Linked DNA regions of Homo sapiens. The protein of the gene in region 3 purifies or fractionates together with the protein of the main gene of each other region. This does not show direct contact. Each region holds a gene or a part of one and is shown on either strand. Other genes may lie near its edges. The genes, in order: ABCF2, FTO and ZC3H15.

The links.
Region 1: the proteins of ZC3H15 (region 3) and ABCF2 fractionate together in Homo sapiens (co-fractionation; one large-scale study listed by BioGRID). This does not show direct contact.
Region 2: the proteins of ZC3H15 (region 3) and FTO fractionate together in Homo sapiens (co-fractionation; one large-scale study listed by BioGRID). This does not show direct contact.

What each region holds. Positions count from the first base shown.
Region 1 is NC_000007.14:151,210,831-151,214,098, forward strand, and holds the end of ABCF2 (ATP-binding cassette sub-family F member 2), read right to left. Parts: coding exon 3,224-3,268; 3' UTR 654-3,223; downstream 1-653. Other genes in the region: ABCF2-H2BK1 (ABCF2-H2B protein), read right to left, coding at 3,228-3,268.
Region 2 is NC_000016.10:53,710,555-53,714,211, reverse strand, and holds part of FTO (alpha-ketoglutarate-dependent dioxygenase FTO), read right to left. Parts: intron 1-3,657.
Region 3 is NC_000002.12:186,496,241-186,499,897, forward strand, and holds part of ZC3H15 (zinc finger CCCH domain-containing protein 15), read left to right. Parts: intron 1-3,657. UniProt on the Homo sapiens protein: Protects DRG1 from proteolytic degradation. Stimulates DRG1 GTPase activity likely by increasing the affinity for the potassium ions.

The DNA.
Region 1 (3,268 bases), on a different chromosome or scaffold from region 3:
CTTGGTACAAATGGGTATATGAAGGGTATCCTTCATATACCCATTGTAGGATGTATCCTTGTAGGATGTATCCTTTAATTGGGAAGAATGAGAGAAAGAAACGGTGTGAAAGGTAGAGTGGAATCAGTGTGAGCGGAGTATAATGAGGCTTGGACTGAAGGCAGATGAGCAAAACGCCTGAGCCTGGACTAGATGCAGATAGCAGAAGCTCCCCAGGTGGTGAAGAGGCTGACAGGGAGGAAGACCACTGGAGGAGGTGAGAAGCAGAAAAGCAATAGGTGCTCACCAGAAAAGCAGACGTGGCGGTCTTGGGAGTTAGCAGTAAAGGGAAGAAAAGCCCATTGCAAAATGGAGAAAGTCAATTGTCTCACTTAGCACCTATGGGGGAACAAATACTTCAGGCCCTTGAATGCTGTGATTAAAGAAACCTGGAGCAATATGAAAGGTATAGGGGCTTGGGGGAAAAGAGGATGTTACAAATTGAGAGGTGGGAGAAGGGTTCCAAAGACCAGCATCACCTGCTGGCTGTGTTAAAGCTAGCAACCCCTCAATCAACTTACCTCTCCACCCAGCTCTGAACGGCTGGCCACATCCTACGGGCTAAGGTTTAAGAGAATTAACAGGCCACTTCTCAATCCAAAACAAGGCACTGCTAATTTTAGAAATATGTATTTTGTGGACTTTTAAAGCATTATTTAAATTACCAAGGTTGACATTTTTCTTGACAAATAAGCTGACTAGACTATTTCCATTCCTCCAGGTTCTGAAGATCTCCTGTCCTAGTATGGAGACTCTGGAGATCCCGAGACTACCTGAATTCTTAGCAATATCCAGCACTTCCTTAAGTATCAAGGGCTCTGTCCCTCACTGTCCCCATTATCCCAGCAGCCCACTCTCCAGATGCCATTCTCCCCTGAACCAAGGCTCTGGACTCTCAGGACAGACTAACCTGGGCCATTTTGCTCCAGGCCCCACTTAAGGCATAAAGCAGTCAAGCCAGTACCCTCTGGGGTCAGAGGACTCCCATCTGTCTCAGCTGCAGTGTCTCACGGGAGGCTCCTGTCCCTGTTGCCCAGGGCAGCTCCTGGACTTTGTGGCCATCTGAGAAGATCCTACTCATTTTTCAAGTGAGAGCACACCAATTCCACCTTTCTGGGCAGCTACTCACAAGAAATTTCCCTCCTTTTTGAATACTTCTGTCTCCTATCTAAATCACAATTTAGCATCTAATTTGTGTCCTGTATGGTTCTGTCTTACTGGCTTTCCAAGAAGATCATGAGCTCCTAAGGGGTTTAAGCACCATCTGGGACAGTTGCTCCCGCCAGTCCTGGCTGTATTATGAGTACTGAAAAATCATGGCTGTGTCTTCCCATAGGGATGGCTGATTTCAGAGGCAGAGTGATGAATCCACACCAGGAAGGATGGCCACTGGTGAAATGCTATTGAAGTTCAAAAGACCCAGATAAGGTATGCAGAGCCCTGGGCTGGAAGTGAATTCAACAGTGATGATAACTATGGCTGTGGACAGGTAAAAATACAAAATTTCCTGTATCCCAATAGGAAGAGAGGTTCACAGACGTTGGTGTGAAAATGCAAACTCCTGGCCATCTCTGCACCTCTCTCATTCTACCAAATGCGATTAATCAATAGGTCTGATGCTCAGCAATCTGAATTTTTTTATTTTTTTGAGACAGTGTCTCGGTCTGTCATCAGGCTGGAGTGTAGCGGCACGCTCTGCTCACTGCAGCCTCAACCTCCTGGGCTCAAGTGAGCCTCCTCTTATCAGAGCAGCTGGGACCGCAGGCACATGCTACTATGCCCGGTTCATTTTATTACTATTTGTAGAGAAGGGGTCTCCCTACTTTGCCCAGGCTGGTCTTGAACTTCTAGGCTCAATTGATCCTCCTACAGTGGCCTCCCAAGGTGATGAGCTTACAGTCGGATTACAGGTGTGAGCCACTGTGCCTGGCCAGTCTGCATTTTTTTGAGACAGGGTTTTGCTCTGTCATCCAGGCTGGAATGCAGTGGTGCAATCTCAGCTCACTGCAACCTCCACCTCCTGGGCTCAAGCGATCCATCCACCCTAGCCACCTGAGCAGGTGGGATTCCAGGCACATAAAGACGGGTTTTGCCATGTTTCCCAAGCTGGTCTTGAACTCCTGAGCTCAAGTGATCCACCTGCCTCAGCCTCCCAAAGCGCTGGGATTACAGGTGTGAGCCACCGCACCTGGCCTGCATTTTTAACAAGCAGCCCAACTGCTGTGCAGTTGGGGCAGAACCTCAGATCACAATCAGAAAACCACGCTCCTGGACAGTGGTTCTCAAAATAGTCTCTAGACCAGCAACAACAGCATCACCTGGAAACTTGCTAGAAATGTTAACGTTCTTGGTCTCCCCCAAAACCTATTGAACCAGAAACGCTGAGGCGAGATCTGGCAATCTGATTGCATGAGCCCTCCAGGTGATTCTGATTCATGTTAAAGTCTGTGAATCACAGGCCTGAGAAAAGGTACAATTTCAAATCAGAAGTAAAGGGACAAAGTTCTTCCAGCTCCTATGGACTAGTCTTCAGTTCCCATCGACACACTGACGCTGGATCCAGCTCCTGCTGTGGGCAGTGCATGTTGGCACTGCAGGGAGGAGAAGGCCCCAGAGACCCGAGAAGGAAGGTAGGGACCGTGGCTTCCTCTTTCTTTATTGGGCGCTTTGTAGATGTCACGCAGGTCTAAAAGTTACACTGCTAAATAATTATTTAAAAACTGACCAGGACGAAGGTCCTGGTCCGGAGCTCCAAACCAGAAGCAAAAAGGAATCGGGGCGGTGGGCTGGGGGGTACTCCTCCAACATCACCAAAACCCAGAAAACGAGGATCCTAAGCTCCTCCGCAGGCCAAATCCAGGGCTTGGGCCCCTGGGCTAACCCGCAGGTGCCTCTGACTGCATCACACTCAGAGTAAGATAACCAGCAAGGGGCTGGAGGGAACGGCCAGCCGAGTCCAGACATGGACAGATGTAACTGGAAGGAGGACAGGAAACAGACAGGTACTGTCCAGCTGTAGGTAAGAGAGTGCAGCTAAGGCAGGTTGAGGGGCAGGGGAGAGGCTGGGGGAGCAGTATTGCAGCAATGCAGGAGTGTAGCCCCAGGGTCCTGTCCTGAGCGGCTGGTCAGGTTAGCAGCTGTTAGTTCCCAGATGGAGCTCCTGACCCGAACCCAGGTAGAGGGCTCACACGTTGTGGGTCCTCTTGGTGAGCTGGGGCTCCTCATCCAC
Region 2 (3,657 bases), on a different chromosome or scaffold from region 3:
TGATCACAAACAATTATGAAAACACTCATGCTCTGGCAACAAATCTCCTCCTCAGAGCAGCTGCAACATAATTTGGTCCTTCAAACTGAATTTTCTACTTGGTTTCTACCAGTTGTAAAGGTCTTAACTGCCCTTTATCCATATGGCAGTTTTTTAACATAAGGGGAGGCATGGTTATCTTGTAAGCAGGTCATTTCCAAAACTACAGAGTAAATAAATGATCAGCATAGCAACAGGACAGATGCTTATAGCAAAAACAAAAATGTACGTCTAATAGTCAAACTCATAGAATCAGAGAGTAGAAAGATGATGACCAGGGCTGGGAGGATGGGAAAGAGCTAATCAAGCGGCATAAAGTTTCAATTATACAAGATGAATCAGTGCCAGAGATCTGCTATACAACATTGTACCTACAGTTTACAATACTTTATTGTACACTTAAAAATGTGGTAAGAGAGTAGATCTTATGTTGTGTTCTTACCATAATAAAATACATTTTTTTAAATGCAAACCATGGCACCAATTCAAGGTTTAACTTTCAAACATGTGATGGCTTAACAAAGAGCATGCCAAGGACAAACGTTTGGAAACAAGCCCCTACCAACACAAATCTTCATCTCTTGAACCTGTTCTAATCCAACCCAAGGAATCCTAAGAATCCTCCCAGTTTACATTGTGAAATCAACCAGTGAGACAATTTTATAAAATATTACAAAACCAGTTTATAATAGAAGAGTAAATGAATGTGCTTAGCAGAACTCTAAATTCACCTTCTCTAAGGTGTGTTTTTCATTAAGGTTCCAAAAGTACCACCTTAACAAAAGTTCCTCTCCTCTAGAAGTTAGAAAGTCACACTTTAAATATAACTTTAGCAAGAAAACTGCCATAATAAACTAACAACAACAAAATACTCTAAATCTGAAAGGTAAACTGGCATTTTAAAATTGGAAGAGAACACTTGAAAACAAGTGTTGACAGTTGCTAAAGTATGTGTTGAACAGAAGAGTCTTGTTTCTCAAAATTAATGCCCACACCTATGGTATATTAATTTAAAATTCATAAGGTACTTAACCATTTTCCATTACTTCTTTCAAATTCCGGTTCCATCTCTCACTATTAGAAAGTCTACTGACCAATAACAAGTGATGCTCTTGGGAATTCATTCATTCATTGTTTGACAAGTATGGAATATCTACCATGTGTCTGGCAAAATCTTAAGGGCTAGGGATAAAATGGTGAATGACAAAACGGAAAAAAAAAAAAAAACATGATCTCTACTTTTTTGGAGACTATCATCTACATGCCAAAATCTGTATCACTAAACTCAGCCACAGTAAATCTCATTAGCAGCCAAGGATCCAGAATCATAATTATGAAGGGTCACATATATCACATAACAGATGCTGGACTCTCTCAACCATTTAATCTTTCTTCACCAGATACTTATTAATGTCTCCTTTGTGGAAGACATCCTGCCAGGTACAATGGAGAGATGAAAAGATGAATTAGACACAAATGCTATCTTCAAGGAAGCTACTGTTTGCTCAAAGTGTCTAAGAGTTTTTTTGAATGGCTAATTTAGTTTTCAAAACCAGTACTAGGAGGGTTAGGAAACAGCCTGGAAATAACAGAAAGCAACAAGAACTCACTGTTACTCGATAGTTTAGCTGGTTAATTTTCAAGTAAGGTACAGTATTAAAAGTGGTTTGGAAACTATGATCAAATACACTAACTCTTCTTCTATTTACAGAAGTCAACTAAACCTCCGAAACAGTGATTAAAGGCTTACCCATATATTGAAGGAGAGATTAAGCAAAAAATAATAATGGATTTCGGGAAGAAGGAAAAAAAACAGAGTAGAATCTGTCAGGTGAGGTTTTCATTTTTCAAGTCCCCTGGTCTTTGGCCTAACACCAAAACTGTCCTATATTTAGTGTCCACTTTAGATAAACTGGTGACATAATCTAGAATGGCCCATAATAAAAGTAGACTCCAAAAGAACCTTCTCAGGACCTCAATAAAATGCCAAATTTGAAATATAAAATAAGGTAAAAATACCCAGTCAGTAAAAACATAAATAACAAACTTTCTTTTGTTGAGTTATTGTTATTATTATTTAGAGACAGGGTCTCACTCTGTTGCCCAGCCTGGAGTGCAGTGGCATAATCACAGCTCACTGTAACCTCCAACTCCTGGTCTCAAGTGAGCCTCCTCCACCTTGGCCTCACAAAGCATTGGGATTACAGGTATAAGCCACTGCATTTGGCCAAGTTATTATTTTTATAACTCAATAAACCTTATCATTTAAAGTTGATAAGACAACTATCACCAAAAGCAGAAGAGTTTTTAAATCATGTTACTTAAAACGGTAGGTTACATATTCTGGATATTTTCCTTCATTGATAAAAATGTACATTACTCAAACAAAATTATTAAATGTTCTTAGGTATATAACCATTTCCATAATAAACTAGTTCTATTTTTAATAGTTTAAAAGATTATCTAACCTAAGCCAGCATAAGAGTCTTTGAAGCTAACTTGGATTTCAACATCCATAGCTTTTTATTCCATGACTAATGAAACAGTTTTAATGTTTCTGAAAAACCCCGTAAGGAATCCCAGGCCTCTCATAAGGATACACCTTTAAACAGATCTTCTAAGGAAGGAATTCCATGACTACTAGGCCATGTTAGATCCTCTTTGCTACCGTGTCCTCCCGTGATAAAACTCACCACTCTGCTGTTGGTACTTACTTACCTTCCATGGACAGCCAGCCAGTTCCATGGGACTGTGTCTGCCATCTTTACCCTGGTGCTGAGTACACTACTCGACACTTAATCAGGTTCCTTATCTGAACCACAGAACACAGAAAATGGTTTGAGTGACTATATTCTCAATTTTCTGAAAGGTGGTACAAAACTAGTACCATTCTGGCTGCATGGGAAATAAGTTAATGGAACCCCATTTGAGAAAATCCACTTGACTAGACACTCAACATAAGTTTACAGAATAAACGTCCTGGGATCAGAATACATATATATATATATACATACAGAATATATATCTACTGGGGTCAGATAGGCAGTAGTGAAGGTGGTGGTGATGATGGTGATAATGATGATGATAACAATGTTTATTTTTACTGTATGCCAGCAATGTTTTATGTGCTATATAATATCTCAATCCCTACCAGAACCATATCACTCCTATTTGATAGATGAGGAAATGGAGGCTCAGAGAAGTTAAATTGCTTGCGCAAGTAAATGAGGGAGCAGAATTCAATCTCAGGAGTCTGCATCTAAAGCTCCACACTACACCACTATATTGTAACTTAAGGGGCAAAACTGGATGACAGCAAAATGGAAAGCACATTTCCCACCTAAAAGGGAAGCCACTATTCAATTCTAGTTAGGAAAATGCATGCCCACTGTTACCAGATACTTAAGTTTTTCAAGAGAGTCAGACACCCAGATCTTTATGTGAAATCCCTCAACTTTTAAATATTAGAAAATAATTCTGAAACAACTTTTAGTTTGTTTGGGCCAAATAAAACTTACCTACAGCCAGGAGGCATATGTGGATTATAAATATGTGACCTCTAGAGGCCCCATCTTTCCTCAAAAATATACATGCAAAAATGCAAAATCTGGGCTGCGC
Region 3 (3,657 bases):
AAGTTCTCACTCTGTTGCCCAGGCAGGAATACAATGGTGTGATCTTGGCTCACTGCGGCCTCTGCCTCCTGGGTTCAAGCCATCCACCTGCCTCATCCTCCTAAGTAGCTGGGACTACAGGCGCATGACACCACACCTAGCTAATTTTTGTATTTTTTGTAGAGACGGGATTTCGCCGTGTCACCCAGGGTGGCCTCACAATCCGCCTGCCTTGGCCTCCCAAAGTGCTAGGATTACACACGTGAGCCACCATGCCCAGACTAAGTTTGTTTTCTTTTAAATGAATAGCTGCTTACACCAGCATCATTTATCCAACTGAAATACCACTATTATCCTACAGTCATAGTCATACATTGTTTAGTGATGTGGATACAATCTGAGAAATGTGTCGTTAGGCGATTTAGTCATTGTGCAAATATCATAGAGTGTACTTACACAAACCTAGATATTACAGCCTACTACACACCTAGGCTATATGGTATAGCCTATTGATCCAAGGCTTCTAACTTATACAGCATGTTACTGTACTGAATACTGTAGGCAGTTGTAACACATTAGTAATGATTTGTGTCTGAACATAGAAAAGATAGAGTAAAAATATGGTATTATAACCTTACAGGATTACTGTCATATGTGGTCCCTCATTGACCTAAATGTCATTAATTCTGTGCTTGACTGTACATTAAAGTCTCAAGGCAAGTCTTTTCCCCAAAATGGTATACCTTTTCTATTTTTCCTGGTTGTTCTTAGGCATTTATTCTTTCATACGAATTTTAAAATGAGTTTATCCATTGGCAACTCATTTGAAAAAAATGTAGCCCCTTTTTTTTTCAGGTTCTTTAGACCTCTCACTTGTAAAGATTTCATAGACATGGATCTTTATTTTTAAAGTACATTTTTCCACCATTTTTATCTCCTTTTCATTAACTTCTGGAAACACATTTTTGTAATGTAGGAGAGAAGAAAGAATTTCTCATGTGTTTACAGATTTTTTAAAAATCTGCTAATATGTATTTGTGAGATAAGTAAATTTCTCTTGCTCATGCTGTCTGCAAATCAGTGACCCAACACTTTCCTTTCACATCCATTTTCCCAGCTTGATTCTAGAATCTAAAACTATTGCTCTTCCAAACTGCTAACTTAATAGCCCGGTTTAATAAAAATTAATGTTTAGAGCTCACGCCTGTAATCCCAGCACTTTGGGAGGCCGGGGCGGGCAGATCAGCTGAGACCTTGCAGTGAGATAGACTTGGGTGTGAATCTTCCTATCTTTTTTGTTACATGATCCTTAAATAGCAACCCTGGTCTTTATCTGTACTGTGGAAGTGCAGTTATTCTTTGTTGGATTCTTCTGGTGGTTAAATAAGAAAATAATGTAAATTTTCTGGTGAATATAGATATCAATATGTAAGAAGAACTCACTTTCTTCACTTAGCCCCTTTTTCAATCCTGCTTTCTCTTCCCCAACTTTTTCTTCTAGTGGAAAGTGTTTTGAGTGGTGATATCAGAATTCATAAACCTGGGAAAGTTATGAAATGTGTGTGCTGGTAGTTAGCTTTGATAGTATATTTAATACTATATTTTTGATACTTGCGTGGATAACTGGACTTATCTGTGAACATGGGGTACCTACCCATCATATATAACATCGGAAATGAGCAGTAGTGCTGCTCTTAGAGCTGGACAGGGGGTATCCTGGTCTAGGCCCTGCGATACATGTGTCTTCTCCAGACTGCTGTCTCCCCTCAGGTAAGGAGTCACTGAAGCCAAGGGGATGTACCCACCCAGATTTTGCAACATCTCTTCCTACAACATTCTGACCCTGGTTTATCTGCCTACAAAGGCCTCTCCACCATGCCCATCTCTGTCCATTGTGCTACCAATATGTCTGAGGTAGCCAAGAGAACAGTGTACGCTAAGGGTTTGAACAGAGCCTGCATCCATACCCTTTCCTTCCTTCTTGCACCTTTACCTCCCCCTACACCCAAAATGGAATGAAACGGGGTGGGAAGAGGAGAAAAAAGAGCCCAGGGCTAACTCTTGTGTTGCTGCCATGCTTCAGTGTGGAACTCCATGGAGTCTGAGCATTTTAAATTTGAACCTGTCCTTCCAGGTCATAAGGTATATTTGTCGAGTAGGGTTACAGACCATATTTTATTCATCATGAACTTGATTTCTAATTTTAAATATTTAGATAAATGGCTTGTAGACCTCCATTGTATTCTTGCTCAAACATTGCCCCACAAATGTTTGAGATGGGCCTGATGAGCAAAGGATACTTCTATTAAAAATTAAGCGACTTAAATTTTTTCTTTCAAAACATTTTTTGTGTTTAAACACATCCACCATATAGAGTCATATTCAGGATTTGGGATGTCTTTGACCTAATTATAGCATTTGGCCATTCCTTTCCTAAAATTTCCTCTTTCTTGAACACATTTTGTCCTGGTTTTCTACCTGCTTCTTTGATGTTTCTAGGTCTTTTTATTGGACTTTTTAGGTTCTTTTGTCCCATTTTATGTTGATTTTCTTCAAGGAAGTGTCCTTTACTCTTGCCACTTTTTTATGCTCTCCTTAAGTACCATATACCCAAAGTTTTAATTGTTACCTGTAAGCTGCTATTTCTAAAGTCTTTATCTCAAAGCAGACCCTCTCTGATTTCAGTGGAATCAATATGCATGTCTATCTGCCTTCAAAAGAGCTCTACCCAGATGCTTTGTAAGCATCTTGCACTCTGTATGTCTAAAACTAAGCTCATCTTCACCTCTTACCCTGAAACCTGTTCCTCCTGTATTCCCTGTCTTGTTTAACGGCACTAACCATATACATGATAATCCTAGATTCCTCCCCCTTTATACTTCATGTTCAGTCAGTCCTATCAGCTCTGTCTCCTTTTCTCCATCCTTACCAGTAATGCTCATTTTAAGCTCTTGTGTTTTATTGTGTACAGCAGTTGCAGCAGCCTCTTGCCTTTATTCTTGGATTCCCAATCCATCCTCTACAAAACTTGCCCTCTTGATATTTTATAAAATGTGACCTGACCTTGTTATTGGGTTACTTTAAACAGTTGAGAGAACTCTGTTCAAGCTACTGATGCAATCTAAGCATCTTACTGATGTTTCTCATACTTTATTCCTCTAGTCCCTGTAACTTTGCATTGGCTGGCTCTTTCTGTATTTCTTTTCTTGCCCATCAAGAAAAACTCATCCATAAGGTTATTGGCTCAATTTAGTTTTCTCAGGTATATGGGCATTCTTTGTTCCCAGAGCACTATGTACTATGTTACAGTTGTTGACATGTCTGTCATCCTGCTAGATTCTGAGCTTCTTTAAATAAGCATCTTTGTCTTTTCATTGTATTCTCTGTCATCTAACATAGGACCTGACGTATAAATGTTTGGATGAATCCTCTAATCATATTAGGTATGTAAATCGTGTGCCTGGAACTATGTTATATGTCATGTTTTGTTTTGAATTGTTTTGTTTAATATCCTACATTGACCTAACCCAGTGTTTTTCCATGAGGGCACTATATAGGTTTTTGGGGTGGTATAATTCATTATCATGTGGGACTGTACATTTCAGGATGTTTGCTTGTCTCATCTTCAAAATGAACCTGTACGTTTCTGGGGAGTGGGTTGTTTTCACAGAAGAATAT